Regions from separate parts of the Homo sapiens genome. Here regions 2, 3 and 4 are each linked to region 1. The links come from fine-mapping of genetic effects on gene expression. A gene starts in region 1. Each other region holds a variant in brackets. All regions are shown on one strand. Distances are between the middles of the regions. Region 1 holds the start of MON1B (MON1 vesicular trafficking associated B). Region 2 holds the start of LOC124903726 (a long non-coding RNA gene). Region 3 has its middle 44 kb from the start of SYCE1L. Region 4 has its middle 32 kb from the start of SYCE1L.

What was found. PIP is the estimated chance that this variant, and not a neighbour inherited with it, causes the effect.
Region 2: its variant is the best candidate, but not a certain one, in a credible set for the expression of MON1B in subcutaneous fat (TwinsUK, PIP 0.71).
Region 3: its variant is the best candidate, but not a certain one, in a credible set for the expression of MON1B in cerebellar hemisphere (GTEx, PIP 0.52).
Region 4: its variant is the best candidate, but not a certain one, in a credible set for the expression of MON1B in whole blood (TOPMed, PIP 0.75).

What each region holds. Positions count from the first base shown.
Region 1 is chr16:77,189,107-77,193,269 of GRCh38, forward strand. It overlaps MON1B (MON1 vesicular trafficking associated B), which reads left to right and starts at 2,084. Exons shown (of 6, transcript NM_014940.4): 1 at 2,084-2,152; 2 at 2,370-2,527. The coding sequence starts at 2,380. LOC124903725 reads right to left here and starts at 1,460. Exons shown (of 1, transcript XM_047435021.1): 1 at 802-1,460. The coding sequence starts at 1,460. The coding sequence ends at 1,116. RefSeq lists enhancers at 1,802-2,750, 1,876-2,165, 2,186-2,235.
Region 2 is chr16:77,211,660-77,215,822 of GRCh38, forward strand. SYCE1L (synaptonemal complex central element protein 1 like) reads left to right here. Exons shown (of 11, transcript NM_001129979.3): 8 at 471-540; 9 at 623-710; 10 at 915-987; 11 at 1,198-1,556. The coding sequence ends at 1,272. LOC124903726 (a long non-coding RNA gene) reads right to left here and starts at 472. Exons shown (of 2, transcript XR_007065121.1): 1 at 370-472; 2 at 1-272. RefSeq lists silencers at 472-831, 892-1,221, 1,332-1,421, 1,452-1,501 and an enhancer at 579-1,552. The variant C/T (reference allele first, on the strand shown) is at 1,948.
Region 3 is chr16:77,241,110-77,245,272 of GRCh38, forward strand. No RefSeq gene overlaps it. Among named protein-coding and RNA genes, the nearest start is that of SYCE1L, 44 kb to the left of the region's middle. The variant A/G (reference allele first, on the strand shown) is at 1,999.
Region 4 is chr16:77,229,309-77,233,471 of GRCh38, forward strand. No RefSeq gene overlaps it. Among named protein-coding and RNA genes, the nearest start is that of SYCE1L, 32 kb to the left of the region's middle. RefSeq lists an enhancer at 1,363-1,532 and a cis regulatory region at 1,448. The variant C/A (reference allele first, on the strand shown) is at 2,458.

The DNA of each region.
Region 1 (4,163 bases):
CTGGGAACTGCATCAGGCAAACCTGCCTCCCAGTTTATCCCTAAATAAGATATTTACAAAGATAAAGCTACATACTTCCCTCATAATTTGCCCTCTAGGGATTCCTTGTGGGCTGCAAGATCTTTACCCTAAAACGGTTCTGTTGAATTTTACCCTGACAACGTAAATTGATAGTTTATCTTCACAGGTGCGAGACAAAGGAGCGAACCCCAAGTCATCCCTCTGCTCACCTGAAACAAATGCATATCTGATTGCTTCCTCTGAGGTAAAAATGCAGATTGACAAAGCTAGATGAAGGCGTAACTATTCCTCTACTCCCCTGATAAGGTTTGGATCTATGTTCCCACCGAAATCTGATGTCGAATGGTAATCCCCATTATTGAAGGTGGGGTCTGGTGGGAGTTGATCGGATCTTGGGGGTGAATCCTTCATGAATGGTTTAGCATCATCCTCTTGGTGACAGTGACTGAGGGAGTTATTGCGAGATCTGGTTGTTTAAAGTGTGTAGCCCTGGGCTGGGCATGATGGCTCACTCCTGTAATCCCAGCAATTTGGGAAGCTGAGGCGGGTGAATCACCTGAGGTCGGGAGTTCAAGACCAGCCTGGCCAACATGGCGAAACCCCATGTCTACTAAAAATACAAAAATTAGCCGGACGTGGTGGCGGGCACCTGTAATCCCAGCTACTCCAGAGGCTGAGGCAGGAGAATTGCTTGAACCCGGGAGACGGAGGCTGCAATGAGTCAATAACATTTTGCCATTGCACTCCAGCCTGGGTAACACAGCGAGATTAATAAATAAGTTTGCTTATGAGATGTTATTTTATTGTACTTTTTTACATGTTTATTATATATTATATACTTCTAAATGTATTAGGTAAATATATTTTGTATGCACATAAATTTATCCATTGTTTCTGTTATATAAATTTAATATTTATTACTTATCGATTACCTATTGTATATAAAGCACATGATGCTACACTGGTATTTGGAATTCATTACCCTAACTATACTGTAATTAAAATAATTATCCTAACTAGTACCAAAGGCTTCCCCTTAGCAATCACTCGAAGTGTGCCAGCACCTCCACTCACTTCACGTCAAGCGATTCCCATCATTGTTTCACTGATGGAGAAACCAAGGCCCAGGGCACTTGGGGCAAGGCGTTCAGGGGGCTTTCGGTCCGGAAGCAGCGTCGGGGCGGGAATTCGAACCCTGGGTTCCCACACTGGCCCGTGGCAGGGCCCCCAAGCCTTTTCCCAAACTGATCACAGAAAGTGACGACCCGTTCGCCCGGCGGACCGGGGGCGTCGGGCAGGTCCTGGTCCAAGTGAGTGCCCGCCCCTGCCCTGGGCTGGCAGAGTTCTTCCCCCAGCTGCAGGTAGACGTGGGAACCCGGCAGGGTACGGAGCTGCTGGCGCGGCACGCTGATTAGAAGCGGCGACTGCCCGTCAAGCATTCGCGCCTCTCCCCTCCCTTGACTTTCTTGGCAGGGTTAAGGGATAAGAGAAAGTGGAGTTGCCTCAGTTCTGGGAGAGCCCGTTTGTGGGTCCGGCACAGGTATCCATCGGGACTGACGCTGCAAAAGTCCTCTTGTGAAACAAGGAATAGGCTCGAGTCTTCGATTGGGTCGAGGGAGACGTCAATCAATGGATGGGCGTGTGCAAACGCAACACAACGCACAGTATTGGTTAGGATTTGGCGGGGGGAGTAGACAGCGGGGAAATGAGGCGGCTCATCTCGATTGGCCCAGAAAGAAGACGGTCGCGCCCTATGTACTCCGGGATTGGCTAGAGCGAGCCGCGTCCCCCCTCACGCCAACCACTGGTAAGCGAAGTGGGCCTCGCTCTCCCGGGTTAGCAGCCGTAGCCAGATCCGTTGAAAGGAGTGCAGAGAGGTCTCATTGCGCTCCCGAACAGACCTGACGTAGATCCGAAGTGGCCCGCGCCATCTCAACTATGAGGGGACACCCGTAGGCGGCGGGAGAGGGACGCCGCGAGGAGCCAATAAAGCTCCGCAACCGGAAGTGTCTTCTGGGAGGGGTCGTACCCGGAAGTGTGGCACCTCCCGGGCCGCACCCGGAAGTGTGATGCCACCGCCGCTACGGGGAAGTAATGGTATCCGGCCAATTGAGATTCGGAGTTAAAACAGGTGTTTGTATATCTCTATTTCCTGAGGCCCAGTAGAGTCTCCTCTTTTCGGAAAGTGTTGGAGGGGGGACGTATTTGGGCATGATTTTGGATGTCTCGTCCTATTGAAATCCGTGGGGAAATGAGCAGTAGGAGTGTGTCCAAGGGGGCCTGACTCTATAAAGGCTTTTCAGAAGTTTCTTTCACCGCCCGTCACCCTCGATTCCCCTCCCACTCAGGGATGTGCAGATGGAGGTCGGAGGAGACACTGCTGCCCCGGCCCCCGGGGGCGCGGAGGACTTGGAGGACACGCAGTTCCCCAGTGAGGAAGCTAGAGAAGGTGGAGGGGTTCACGCGGTCCCGCCGGATCCCGAAGACGAGGGCCTGGAGGAAACAGGTATGACTCCACTTAGTGGGGTCTTAAAAGGAATCCTTAGGGGTTGTCATTGTTGGACGGGGGAAGGGTCAGTGGGTGACCAGTAGGGAGTCTTGGGACTTAAGAGAAGTGGCTTAAACCATCGCCGGGTCAGGAGGAGGTCACTGTGGACACATGGTGTAGTTTACATCATTGAGGAAGTCATTGGCTGTCAACGGATGTTCACTGGGGGTTTGGTGTGAGTTTAGGTCATTGAGGAATCAAAAAGGGGGCTGTTAGGACCAAAGAGGGTCACTGAGGATTTAGAGTGTTTAGATCAAAGAATGCGCTGAAGAAAGTCAATAGACTCAACAGAGGAGGACTGTTGAGAAGTTAGTGTTTTTGAGGAGTAGGGTGTTATTTATTAAATAATAGAAGTGGGAAGGGGAATCAGTGGAGTTCGATGGGCACTCAGAGTATTTACATCATTGAAGTCACTTGTAGACTGTTGGGGAAGTCTTTAAGGGACCAAATGTTAGTGGATGTGTAAAGTTGTTCATTTGAGATTTAATGGAAGTCACTGAGAAGTCTGTGCCATTGATCACTTTGGAATTAGTGGATGTAAATGGAGTCATTGGGAAGGATCAGTGGACCTCACTGAGAATAAATGTGGATGGGGAGGTTGAGGACTTGGGAATTAATAGCAGGTAAGAGCAGTTATTAGGAGGGAGTAAAGATATTTGGGGACATGGGAGTGTCAGTGAATGTCAGTGACAGAATATGCAATTATTGGGATTTTATGGGAAAATTATTGAGACATAGTTGCACATGGATAATAATGGTTGTCATTGGGGGATGAATGGAAATCAATGGGAATAAATGGATGTGTCAGTAGGGGCTGTTGAAGTTGTGGGTTTTAGTGAATGTTAATGATGGTCATGGGTAGGGGCAATGGAAGTCATTAAAGTCTTGTGTGTTAGTGGATATTATGATGGTTACTGTAGGGAGGGGAGTGGATACCAATGAGATTGAAGGTGGTCAGGGGAGTGACTGAAGGTCTCTGAAGTGCTGGGTGTTAGTGGAGGTTAATGATGGTCATTGTTGGGGGTAGGGGGGAGTAGACATGGAGTAGAATAACTTGTGGATCAGGGCAGTCATGGAGGGTCATTGAAAAACCAGGTGTTAATGATTGTTAATGTGGGGTCATTGGGGTGTTTGTGAACCACAGTGGGAGTGAATAGTGGATTAGGGGAGTCCTAAATATCTGGGTGTTAGTGGATATTAACGACAGTCATTGGGAGAAATAGTGGACATTACCAAGAATATAAATGGGCAACCAGGAGAGTTAGTAGGGGTCATCAGGTATCAGTGGGCATCACTGATAGGGTAGTAGCGGGGGTTGGGGCATTCAAACAGTTAAGATATTAATAGATGTTAATGGTGGCCATTGGGTGAGCAGATATCAGGAGAAAAAATAGCGGTCAGAGGAGTTAATGGGGGATCATTGAAGATGAATAATCGTCATCCAGAGTCAATGGGGTGCTTTGAAGACTTTGGAATAACAGTGATTGAAAGGGAAGTAATTGGTCTGTAGGAACATAGCAAGTCCAGTGGAATAACAATGAGAATATGTTGGTTTATTAGGGTTTTAGGAAGTTCATTGGAACCTAAATGTTAG
Region 2 (4,163 bases), 23 kb after region 1:
AGATCAAAGAGTCCACGTCTTTGCTGTCCCAAGCTGGTTGGGGACGGTGGAGGCACCAAGAAAGTTAGTGGCTAGATCGTGGAACTTCAGTGGGAAGGCCTCTAAGCAAGTGACATCTCAACGCAGAGGTGAAGGAAGTGAGGGAAGAAGCCGTGCAGGTATCGGTGCAGAAGGAAGGCCCTGGGGCTGGACGGTGCCTGAAACCGTTGAGGAGCCGCAGATTGGGGAATGGAGGATGAGGAGAGTGGGAAGAGTTCAAGTTTGAGAGGTGCCTGGAGACATGGAGAGCGTTTAGGGGGAGGTGGGTGGGTCTCCAGCCACAGCAGGAACTGCACATTGAGTTAATAAATAGTTGAATGAATGAATGACCTAATGTAGGTGAAGACTTCGCGAGAAGCACAAAAGGGGAGGGGCGGGCCGTGTAGCCAAGAGGACGGCCAAACGGGGAGGCCTCCTCTTTGTCCTCGCAGATGCTGGAGCAGCGACTGGCCCGGGAGATCCGTGCCCTGGAGAGAAGCAAGGAGCAGCTGCTCTCGGAGAGTGAGCCTCCCGCGCCAGGTGGGCGGGGGGAGGGGGATGTGCCCGGGCCTCGGCCCTGCCCCTGACGCCCGCCCACCGACAGGGAGGCTGGTGCGCGCCAAGCTGCGGGAGGTGGAGCGGCGGCTGCACTCGCCGCCTGAGGTCGAGGGCGCCATGGCGGTGAATGACGGGTGAGAGGGGAAGGGAGGAGTGGGCGAGGAGGGCAGGGGCAGGGCGGAGGGGAACCCGCCCAGGTCCCCCGCTCCGCCCCCGACTGCCGCTTCCCCGGCCTGTGCCTCCCTCGGCGTCGTCGGGTCTCCGCGTCTCGGTGGCTTCCTCCTCGTCCCCTGGACTCTCGCTCTCTTCCTCCTGTCTCCTCGGCCCCTTCTCCGCAGGCTGAAGGCGGAGCTGGAGATATTCGGGGAGCAGGTCCGGAGCGCCCCCGAGGTCGGGGCCGGCGAGGGAGAGGTAGGGAGCCCGAGGAAGGGAGGCGGGGCGGGCAGGGACCGAGTCAGGAGAGAGCGGGCGGGGGTCCTGGGAGCGGCCCCCGAGAGTGGGGTCTGTGGGGAGCAGGGCGGCCCCGGGGACAGAGGAAGCCGCGGTGGAGGCCTAGGGCAGACGCGGGCGGACGCGAGGAGCGTAGGAACCTGGTCCGCAGCCTCACCCAGCCCCCGGCAGGCCGGACCTGAGCTCCCCCGCGCTCGCGACGAGGAGGATCCCGAGCCGCCGGTGGCTGCCCCTGACGCCCTCTAGGCCAGCAGGACCCGCCCGTTCCCGACCTTCCCTCGAGACCCGCCAAGAAATAAAGGCGATGATTTCCGACCATGCTCGCGTTCTCCGCGGAGTCTGTGCTACACCGTGGAGCGGGGCGGGGCGTGCTGGGATCTCGAGGCGGGGCCTCTGCCGGACCCCTCCCACCAGTCGAGCCCCGGGCGCCGTACAGAGGCTGGGTAAATGCTCCTGAACTCAGAGAGAGTAAGTGGGTGTCAGTATCCCCCGCCCCACGGCCTCATCTCGAGTTCCCAAACCATCTATGTTGTCAACAGGGGCCGGAGGGCAGGTGTTAACCCATTCCGGTCCTCGGGGCCTGTGCGTCTCCGGTGGTCTCAGGAAACCCAGAGTCTCTGCAAGACCCGCAGACTCGCGCTGGCTCTGGGACATGCCCGCCCATCTGAGCTCCCCTCACAAATTGGGTTCTAGCCAAGGCTGCCTCTCCACCCGTCTCAAACATTCCAAAACACGTGTCCCCTCGGGGCCTTCGCCCTACTGGTCCTTCTCTGGGGTCACATCCCCCAGGCAACCTCAGATCTGTTAAATGTGTCCGCCACTCTGGAGGCCGGCATTTGGGACCCAAATCCAAAGGCACCCAGCAGCAGGCTGCGGCCATTGACTGAGCATGTACTGACTAAGCAGGCATTTGCCGATTGC[C/T]TGCTGGGTACCAGGCACTGTTCTAAGCACTGGATTTTAAACAGCGCGGTCAGCGACGGCCTCACCTAGGAAGTGGTATCTGAGCGGAGAAGCGAGGTAGAGAAGCGAGGGGGTGAGCCCTGTGGGTGTCTGGGGAAAGGTGGGCCTGGCAGAAGACATGCCTCATGCCAAGGCGGGAGGTGAGGCTGCACTTCGCTGTGTTTGAGGAGACGTCTGGAGAAGGCCGGCGTGGTAGAGTGGAATGAGGTAGAGTGGGATGGGAGACGACACTGGAGAGTTGCCAAGGACCAGTCAAGTTGGACACTATCTAATGTGTGTAGAAGAGGACCTGGCACACAGTCAGTATTCAGTGAATGCCAGCTCTCACATATTGTTGGGATGATTCACTATTCCCAGTCCCTAGAGAATGGGAACTGAGATGTGTGACTCACTTAGATCAGAGGCTTCTGTCCATTAAGTGATCAGTAAGTGGTTCATATGATTTATTATTATTATTCCCAGGCTACAGATGAGGAACACTAAGGTGTGTATATCTCTCAGAACAGAGATTTTTATAACATAAATGCTCAATAAATGGTATCTATCATTTATTATTCTCACTGCTATTCTTGCTGTTATTCCCAATTTAGCGATGAGGAAAATTGAGATAGTGAATCTGTACAGTAAGCCCTCAATAAACGTTGGGTCTCACGTTTGTTGCCATTATTATCCCAAGTCCACAGATGAGGCCCAGGGAGCTTTAGTCCCCGAGTCACCACTCGCATCCGGGCAGAGCTGACTCCAGGCCCAGGCTGTGGTCCCCTGCCCCACTGACACCACCTACTTGCTAAGGCCAGTCTCCAGGAATCTCTAAGGAACTTCAGTATCCTCTTTGTCATCCTCTCTGTGTCACACAAATGGGGTCAGCCTGGATATTCTGCCGATTTACCACTGGGCACCTAGGATTCGAGTCCTGGTTTCCCTGTTCACCAGCTGGATGACCTCAGGCAAATTGCTTAATGTCTCTAAAACGCAGTGACCAGCTGGGTGCTGTGGCTCACGCCTGTAATCCCAGCACTCTGGGAGGCTGAGGCGGGTGGATCACGAGGTCAGGAGTTCAAGACCAGCCTTGCCAAGATGGTGACACCCCTTGGTTTGGTGGTGGCAGGTGTCTGGAATCCTAGCTACTCAGGAGGCTGTGGCAGAGAATTGCTTGAACCCGGAAGGCGGAGGTTGCAGTGAGCCAAGATGGCGCCACTACACTCCAGCCTGGGCGACAGAGCGAGACTTTGGCTTTTGATTTGCCCTGTGTTCTCCTGACTCAACTGACCTTCCTGGCAGGGCTACTTCTCCTTTCATTGAAATAATTGACAGCTGCCTGGGAAGTCTTCACTCACTTCCTGTAACAGCTTTTCTCAGGGCTTGCATTCAATTACCATAATTCTCAAGCTTCTTGGCTTGTAGTTCAGGTTCAAATGTGAATGAGCCTGGGGGAGCTCAGTGTTGCCAAAAGGCGGAAGGACATTCTTTTTATTATTATTATTATTTTTATTTATTTATTTATTTATTTTTGAGACGGAGTCTCGCTCTGTCGCCCAGGCTGGAGTGCAGTGGCGCCATCTCGGCTCACTGCAAGCTCCGGCTCCCAGGTTCACGCCATTGTCCTGCCTCAGCCTCCAGAGTAGCTGGGACTACAGGTGCCCGCTACCACACCCGGCTAATGTTTTTCTGTATTTTTAGTAGAGACGGGGTTTTACCGTGTTATCCAGGATGGTCTCGATCTCCTGCCCTCGTGATCCGCCCGCCTCGGCCTCCCAGAATGCTGGGATTACAGGCGTGAGCAACCGCACCCGGCCAGGACATTCTTGAAAAAAGTAAGCCAGAAAGAAACCCACTGAAAAACAGAGGAGTCAGAGGAGGGGCCCGAAGAGATGCAAACATAGCACATCCTGAGTAGCAAGCTAGACAAGGCATGGAAGAGAGAGTGGCCAAAGTGACTGCAGTAGAATCTCCCGGAGGATAATAATATTACTACCTAATAGAGCACACTAGTTAGCAGAACAGAACCCAGGGCCAGACTGTGTTTGTTAGAATCCCAGCTCTGCTGCATACTAGCTGTGTAACTTCAGGTTACACAGTTAGGTTACTTAAATTCCCTTTTTTTTTTTTTTTTTGAGATGGAGTTTCATTCTTGTTGCCTAGGCTGGAGTGCAATGGCGAGATCACGGCTCACTGCA
Region 3 (4,163 bases), 52 kb after region 1:
GCTTGAGCCCAGGAGGTCGAGGCTTCAGTGAACCATGATCGTGCCACTGCACTCCAGCGTGGGCAACAAAGTGAAACCCCATTTCAAAAACAAAGAAAAAAGAAAAAAAAAAACAGTAGAGACTACAGCACAGAATTAAGGGCAAGGATGGTAAACAATTTGAAGTTCCAAGACACGAGATTTCTGTGATGGCAGAAGAGACTTGAGCAACTTTCAAGAGACAATGGAAGCCTGGGAGGGCTGGGCTAATGCCTTCCATGTGGCCAAGATGCGACCTCTCAGGCTTTAATCAGACAGTCTCAGAATGAGGTTACGTTGCAAGACCTGCATAGCTTTTCTAGTCTGTGCACAAACTGTGTTGGTCACGGACTGAGTTATGAAGCTATTGGGTCTGGGTGTGAATGGCAGGGTCTGTCTTCAGCTCAAGTTTGATAGAGGAATCTCTGCCATAGCCACAAGGAAGCCATGTTACTTTATTTTCCTTCCTTTATCTCTGTAGCCGCCTCTTTTCAGGAATTACTGGGGGTAGTCATTTGTATGTGTAGTAAAAAGTGTCTTCTGTATCATTCACTCTTTTTGCTTCTTTCTTTTTTTTTTTGAGATAGAGTCTCGCTCTGTCGTCCAGGCTGGAGTGCAGTGGCATGATCTTGGCTCACTGCAACCTCAGCCTCCTGGGTTCGAGCGATTCTTCTGCCTCAGCCTCCCAGGTAGCTGGGACTACAGGCAGATGCCACCACGCCCAGCTAATTTTAGTATTTTTAGTAGAGACGGGGTTTCACCCTATTGGCCAGGCTGGTCTCAAACTCCTGACCTCGTGATCTGCCTGGGCCTCCCAAAGTGCTGGGATTACAGGCGTGAGCCACCGCGCCGGGCCCCATTCACTCTTTTCTGGCACTACCACTTGACTGAGGTCAAATGGCTATTTGTGTTAAGATTCCATTTCCTTATCTGTAAAATGGGTAACAATGTATCTATTCCTCCTAAATAAAGTATTTTCTTGGGATTTTAACTGAGTTCATATAAGATAATGTAGATAAAGCACTTGCCAATTATTTACTAGTCACTGCTTTACTACTTATTGATAACTCTATTCGAGATACAGTATTAGGGATATAGCAGGAAGAACGGGATTTGGTTCTTTGGTTATAGCCTGGAGGTCTGAGTTTGAGTCCTGGTTCTGTTACTGATGAGTTTTGTGATCTGGGAAAAGTAACTTTTTCTTTCAGACCTTTTTAGTTTTTTTTTCTTCAGCTTTTAAGTTCAAGGGTACATGAGCAGGATGTGTGGGTTTGTTACATAGGTAAAAGTGTTCCATGGTGGTTGGCTGCACAAACCATTCCATTACCTAGGTATTAAGCCCAGCATCCATTGGCTATTCTTCCTGATGCTCTCCCTCCCGCTGCCTCTCTCCCCCACACAGGCCCCAGTGTGTGTTGTTCCCTCCCTGTGTCCATGTGTTCTCATGGTTCACCTTTCACTTATAAGTGAGAACATGCAGTGTATGGTTTTCTGTACCTGCATTACTTTGCCGAGGATAACAGCATCCAGCTCCATCCATGTTCCTGCAAAGGACATGATCTCATTCCTTTTTATGGCTGCATAGTATTCCGTGGTATATGTGTAACCACATTTTCTTTATCTAGTCTATCATTGATGGGCATTTGGGTTGATTCCATGTCTTTGCTGTTGTAAATAGTGCTACAATGATCATACACGTGCACGTTGTTTTGTTTTGTGTTTTCATCTGATTTTGGAGAAGATCAACATTATTAGGCCCATGAGATTGTCCTCAATATGAAAAGGGTGTCAGTGGACACGGAAGTCTGGGAAACTTTGCATCTTATGTTCTTTTTTTGTGGAAATCTTCAATACATACTATAGTAAAGACCCTGAGAAGTCCTGCAGTGAAGAAACTTGTTTAATTTGGATTAAACTAAAATTTCCCGCTATAGTAGCAAATCACCATCCCCTGGAATATTCTTTGGAACATACTGAACT[A/G]GGTGATCTCCCAAGAGACTTTTCCACTTTGAAAATCTTTTTTTTTCTCTCTACTCACGTCAACTGTGTTCAGTGTTTCTTTCTGTAGTTTCAGCATCACATATAAGGGGCGGTGCTCCCTTTGTTGATAAGAGGCTACACCTGTCAATTTTAAGCCCCCTGGCATGAACAACTGACAGATCTACATTTACATAAAGCCATGTGAGTAAAATACCCATCCTCATATGAGCAAAGAAGATGATGATCTGCAAAATCTAAAATGTGCTTTGCAACATTTTTATTGCTGCCAATGCCATATTTTCCTTCTGTTCACAGGGCAGCCTTTTTTTCGGGTATTGTATCCCATTTTTGCCACCTAAATGGAGAGAAAAACTTGGAAGCAGAAGCCTTTCATTGCCCTCTGAGTAGGGGAACCAAATAAGACTGATGGTCTGGAAACCAGAAAGTTTGGAATCTAATTCTGCCTGCATTTCTCCATCTAGAAAGAAAGAAAGAAGAGTGAAGCTAGATTGGTCTCTGTGTTCTTACCCAGCATGAGATGATGTTTCTTTTTAGACGAATAGCATCCAGTAATCTAGTACCTGCTTTTAATCCTGCAGTAGTTCCATAGTTTATCACTGTAGCCTCCTTTTTTGGCGGAGAGAGTCTTGCTCTGTCACCTAGGCTGGAGTGTAGTGGTGCGATCTTGGCTCACTGCAACCTCCACCTCCCGGGTTCAAGATCCTCTTGCCTCAGCCTCCCAAATAGCTGGGACTACAGGCATGTGCCACCACACCCAGCTAATTTTTATATTTTTAGTAGGGATGGAGATTCACCATGTTGGCCAGGCTGGTCTCAAACAGCTGAAGGTGATCTGCCTGTCTCAGGCCTCCAAAAGTGCTGGGATTATGAGCATGAGCCACCTTGCCCGGCCTGCAGCCTCTTGTAGTAGCCTCTGGTCTTGTATGGTTTGCATTAGCTTCCTTGCACCAATGAACACCATCAGGGGTTGGAAGTAGCCCAAACCCATCTGGCTCTTTTAATGGGGCTGCACTTCACCCCTCATGCCAACATCAATGTCACCCTCATTCTTCGGGAAAATACTCTTACTGCTGAGGCAGCCTTGTGTCCTGGATTCTAGGGATTTGGGTATTTTCTTTCTTTTTCTTATATTAAAATAAATAGCATTGACATAAACCCTAATTTACATTATGTGAAGGATTTTACTTAAATCCTCAAGAGCCATGAGAATCAGACCTGGGCCTGCAAATAGGGCCAGTCACACTGGCATAGATTAAGGCACGAGGATCAGCTTCCATTTTGGGGCTAAAGACTGTTTTTGCTTTTGTGGCTCTGTCAGGCCCTTAACATCACTTAAGCATAATTGATTTGGGGGAACTGAAAGCTGTGAATGTGTACATTGGCTTCTGTTGCTCCAGAAGTGTTTTAAAGCAGCTCCAATTCCCTGAACTATTGAGCACAGGGAATCTCTCCCCATAAAAAGCTTTAAGCATTGATTTTGAGGTTATTTACTGCACTCATCTCCCTGTTCCCATGTGGGATCAGCTAATTAGGACCCATTTGTGATGTGTCTGAATCACATCAGTAACCCCCTTTTTGGGGAAAAGGGGTCCATACACTTGCAGGTAAAGGACCATCAAACACCTGCACTGTGTCTCAGGGTGGCTCAGTGACTTTACTACTCTGTGAACTTGGGCCAAGTGTTTTGCCCCCCTGGGTACCACTCAGCTTCCTTCTGTGAAATGAGGCCAATAACTCCAGTCATGAACCTCTCTTAGGACTGCTCAGCTGGGACACCTTTTCTCCCCTCCCCAATTTGCCCTAAAACATCTGTGGGCAATCTTGGCTTTCTCTGGCTCACCTTGTTCTCCAGTGTCCTTGAGGATTGGCAAAGGGTGCTCCTGTTTCTGGTGACAACCTATTATTTTGATTGATGAACTTACACTCCTTCTTCCACATTCAAACCAAGTGTTTTCATCCCAGGTGGTTTTTCTTGACATGGCAGGATAGATGCCACTCTTCCATGGCCCTCAGATGCCCTGCATTTACATTCATCATAGCACTTGGAAAACCCAAAGCCCCACCCTCAAAATGCTTACGGACTCTTCTGTAATTGTGTGTTTCCAGCATCGCATACTCTGTTTGTTGGCAAATGCTCTTCTAGG
Region 4 (4,163 bases), 40 kb after region 1:
GACTTATAAAATTTTTTTGGTACAATTATAAGCATGAAATAGTTTTATGATGTGACTTGGACTGATGTTGTTTCACATTATTTAATTCTACCAAGAATTGTGTGCATTGTTTGCCATTTCCCCACCACCCTTTTTTTTGAAACAGAGTTTTGTTCTTGTTGCCCAGGCTGGAGTGCAGTGGCGTGATCTCGGCTCACTGCACATCCGCCTCCTGGATTCAAGCAATTCTCCTGCTTCAGCCTCCTGAGTAGCTGGGATTACAGGTGCACACCATCACGCCTGGCTAATTTTTGTATTTTTAGTAGAGATGGGGTTTCACCAGGTTGGCCAGACTGGTCTCGAACTCCTGACCTCAGGTAATCACCCTGCCTTGGCCTCCTAAAGTGCTAGGATTACTGGCATGAGCCACCACGCCCAGTCTTTTCCCCCCTTTTTTTTTAATAGATGGGGGAGGAAACCTAATTTCTGAGAGATTCTGTGTTTTGTTCAAGGTCAAAAAACAGCTCAAATAAGTCAAAGGAGGCCCACCTGGATCCAAAATCTATATACCTTCCACTATATCATATGAGAGTCCTCTGACTGTCTTTAGGGGAATGACATTTTCCATTTGAGTCAATGGAAGCTATAGCTTTACAGAGTAATGACCTTTACCTTATACCCTATTTTAATTCCCTTTAAGCCTGAGGGCCCTTGAATAGTTGGTTTCTACAAAAATGAAGCTGAAAAACAATTACCAAAATATACTAACGACCTCCATGCTATAAAATTATTCACGAGCTAGACCACGGCGAGACTTCTCTAACAAATCCACATCATCCATTTCAAATTTTTAAATTAAATTGATGGCTCTTTAGCTCTGATATGTCACTTTTGTTTTCTTTTCTTTGAGACAGAATTTCACTCTTGTTGCTCAGGCTGGAGTGCAGTGGCACAATCTCGGCTCACCGCAACCTCCACCTCCCAGGTTCAAGCAATTCTCCTGCCTCAGCCTCTGGAATAGCTGGGATTACAGGCTTGTGCCACCATGCATGGCTAATTTTTTTTTTTTTTTTTTTTTTTTTTTTTTAGTAGGGACAGGGTTTCTCCATGGTGGTCAGGCTGGTCTCGAACTCCCGACCTCAGGGGATCTGCCCGCCTCGGCCTCCCAAAGTGCTGGGATTACAGGCGTGAGCCACTGCGCCTGGCCTGATATGTCACTTTTAAAATTCCAAAGGCCCTTTTCCATGAAAGGATCCAGGAATTACTGGCTTCCGATCACCCTTCACAGTCCTTTGTTCATTTTGCTGAACTAGGGTTGCCATTAGAATGGTTCACTGAAGCTCATTCATTCCGGACATTGCCCAGGTGTCCTGCTGTGAAGAAAATTGATATTTTTATTGTGGCTCTTTCAGTTTGCATTGCAAAGGCAAGTATTTTTGAAATTTTGAAATAGAACTTATAATACTGTGTTAAATTCCTATTGCTTATTTCCTCATATCTGCCGGCTGTGTTCTCACGTCCATCTTTGTGTTTTCTGGAGCGCCAATATCCTAGCTCAGATTGGCATTGCCACTTACATGGCTACGGGAGAACTTCATTTCCCACTCTGCCTCTAGCCTTGTTCATTTCCATTTGTCAGTCACATTGTAGTCAGAACTAATTCACTTATAGCTCTTTACTTCTCTGGTTTCCCATGAACTACAGGGTCAAATCCGAAAACTTTATTCCAGAATGCAAGTCCCTCTCTAATGGTCTTATGTGAACCTACCTTTCCAGCCATACATCCCACTACTACCTCTCACCATTCTGGACCCCTCCCTGTCCACCCGCAACTCATGCAAGGCAAGATTTCTTTTCGAATATGACTTTTCTCCCTGCATGGTGTTTACTCTGATTGTATTTTATCTTCAAACACCAGAAGCTATTCATTTTTAAGTGCCCCTTTATCACATAGCCTTCCTTGACCTCTCTGAGAGCAACCTCTGTTTCCTCTGTGTTTCATCATCAAACTACTTATACCATGTCTAGATGAAGTATGATCATTGATGTTATACACCTTCGTGTGCTGGCTGAGAGCTTACATTCTAAGAAATGAGGTTATACCTTATTAATTTTCATATTATCTCAATAATAAGTATAACAAGTTACTGAGTAATTGCTGTAAGAGGAGAACATCTTTGGAGCATCTAACCAACTCACCATGATTTTTAAAAAATCATCTCCCTCTATCAACAGCACTACATGGTGCTATCATTCCCAACAGTCATGTCGTCAAATGTAATTTTGCTCAATTCACTTGCAGGCATCTGAAGATTATGAAATTTAAAAATAAAATGTAATCACTCACGTGCTTAGTGGCAGGCCCTCTGCTTAATGTTATTGCATAAGCATCAGTCATTCGGGTATGGTCTTTTCCCATTGTGTCATTATAGGTCTTATAGACATTAAAAGAACAATAAAAGTGTGTGTGTTTGTGAG[C/A]TAAATGACTTCGGAGAGCAAATTAAAACATTTAGATGAGATGGACAAATTTCTTGAAATATGCAAATCCCTTAAACTGATGCAGGAGGAAATAGAAAATCTGAATAGCTCCATACCTAAATCATTATTTGGAAAAAGTTAAAATTAGGCCCATGTCTCACCATCCACCACAAGAACAAGCAAATAAAGGATCTAATGTAATAATATGAAAGCATACAAGTGCTAGATGGAAACACGGGTGAATTTCTCTTTATTCTGATGTAGGAAAAGGCTTTCTGGCTATGACTCAAAACCCAGAGGTGATAACTTTGACTACATAAAAAAATTTGCATGGAAAGAAATACCATAAATGTTCAAAAATATGTTACATATATTATGGATAAAGATTTAATATCTATAATATATAAAAAACTCTTGAAAGAATAAATTTCAAAAATGAGAATTCTTTAAAATATAAACAGCAAGAATCAAGACTGCTTATGCAGAATTATAAATATGTAAAAATAACAGCAAAATAATGAAAAGGAAATAAACTATTTTTTTTTTTTCCAGATGGAGTTTCACTCTTGTCACCCAGGCTGGAGTATGGTGGTGCCATCTTGGCTCACTGTAACCTCTCCCTCCCAGGTTGAAGTGATTCTCCTGCCTCAGCCTCCCGAGTAGCTGGGATTACAGGCACCCGTCACCAAGCCTGGCTAATTTTTTGTGTCTTTAGTAGAGACGGGGCTTCACCATGTTGGGCAAGCTGGTCTCAAACTCCTCACCTCAGGTGATCTGCCCGTCTTAGCCTCCTAGAGTGCTATAGTTATGAAATAATGACAATTGCTACTTTTTTCCTTTTTTCTACTTCTCTGTGTTTTTGAAATACACTAAGTACATCTTTCTTTTATAAGCAAATAGATGTTATTATAATAAAAAATGTTAAAAGACACAAAGAGATACCATTACAGGCTCACTAATGTGTAAAAATATTAATACACATTGTGGGGAGGTTGTAAAATAACCGGAACACTCAAACATCGCTGGTAGAAGCACAAAGTGGTGCAAACACTTTGAAAAACGGGTAGTTTCTTCTAAATTTAAACACATATTTACCATGACTCAGAAATTCCCCTCCGTGGTATTTACCCAAGAGAAATGAAAATACATAGCTTCATTAAAAAGTATACGTAAGGCCGGGCACGGTGGCTCACGCCTGTAATCCCAGCACTTTGGGAGGCCAAGGCGGGCGATCACGAGGTCAGTAGTTTGAGACCATCCTGGCTAACACGGTGAAACCCCGTCTCTACTAAAAATACAAAAAAATCAGCTGGGCGTGGTGGCGGGTGCCTGTAGTCCCAGCTACTTGGGAGGCTGAGGCAGGAGAATGGCTTGAACTGGAGAGGCAGAGGTTGCAGTGAGCCGGGATCACGCCATTGCACTCCAGCCTGGGCGACAGAGCAAGACTCCGTTTTTTAAAAAAAAGTATACGTAAATGTTCATAGCAAATTTTATTAATAGTTGCCCCAAACCGGAAACAACCACTGTAATTAGAGTTTGAAATCAACATGCTCCACATTCAGGCCACTCTCATAACCACAAAGATAATGGGAAAATAGAGCAGGAAAATACTTTGATATACTTAATTTCTGTGAAAAAAACAGGATGTTTTTCTGATGTCTGTTTCTTGGAGACAAGTAATTGTTCATCTCATTATCGCCTCAGAC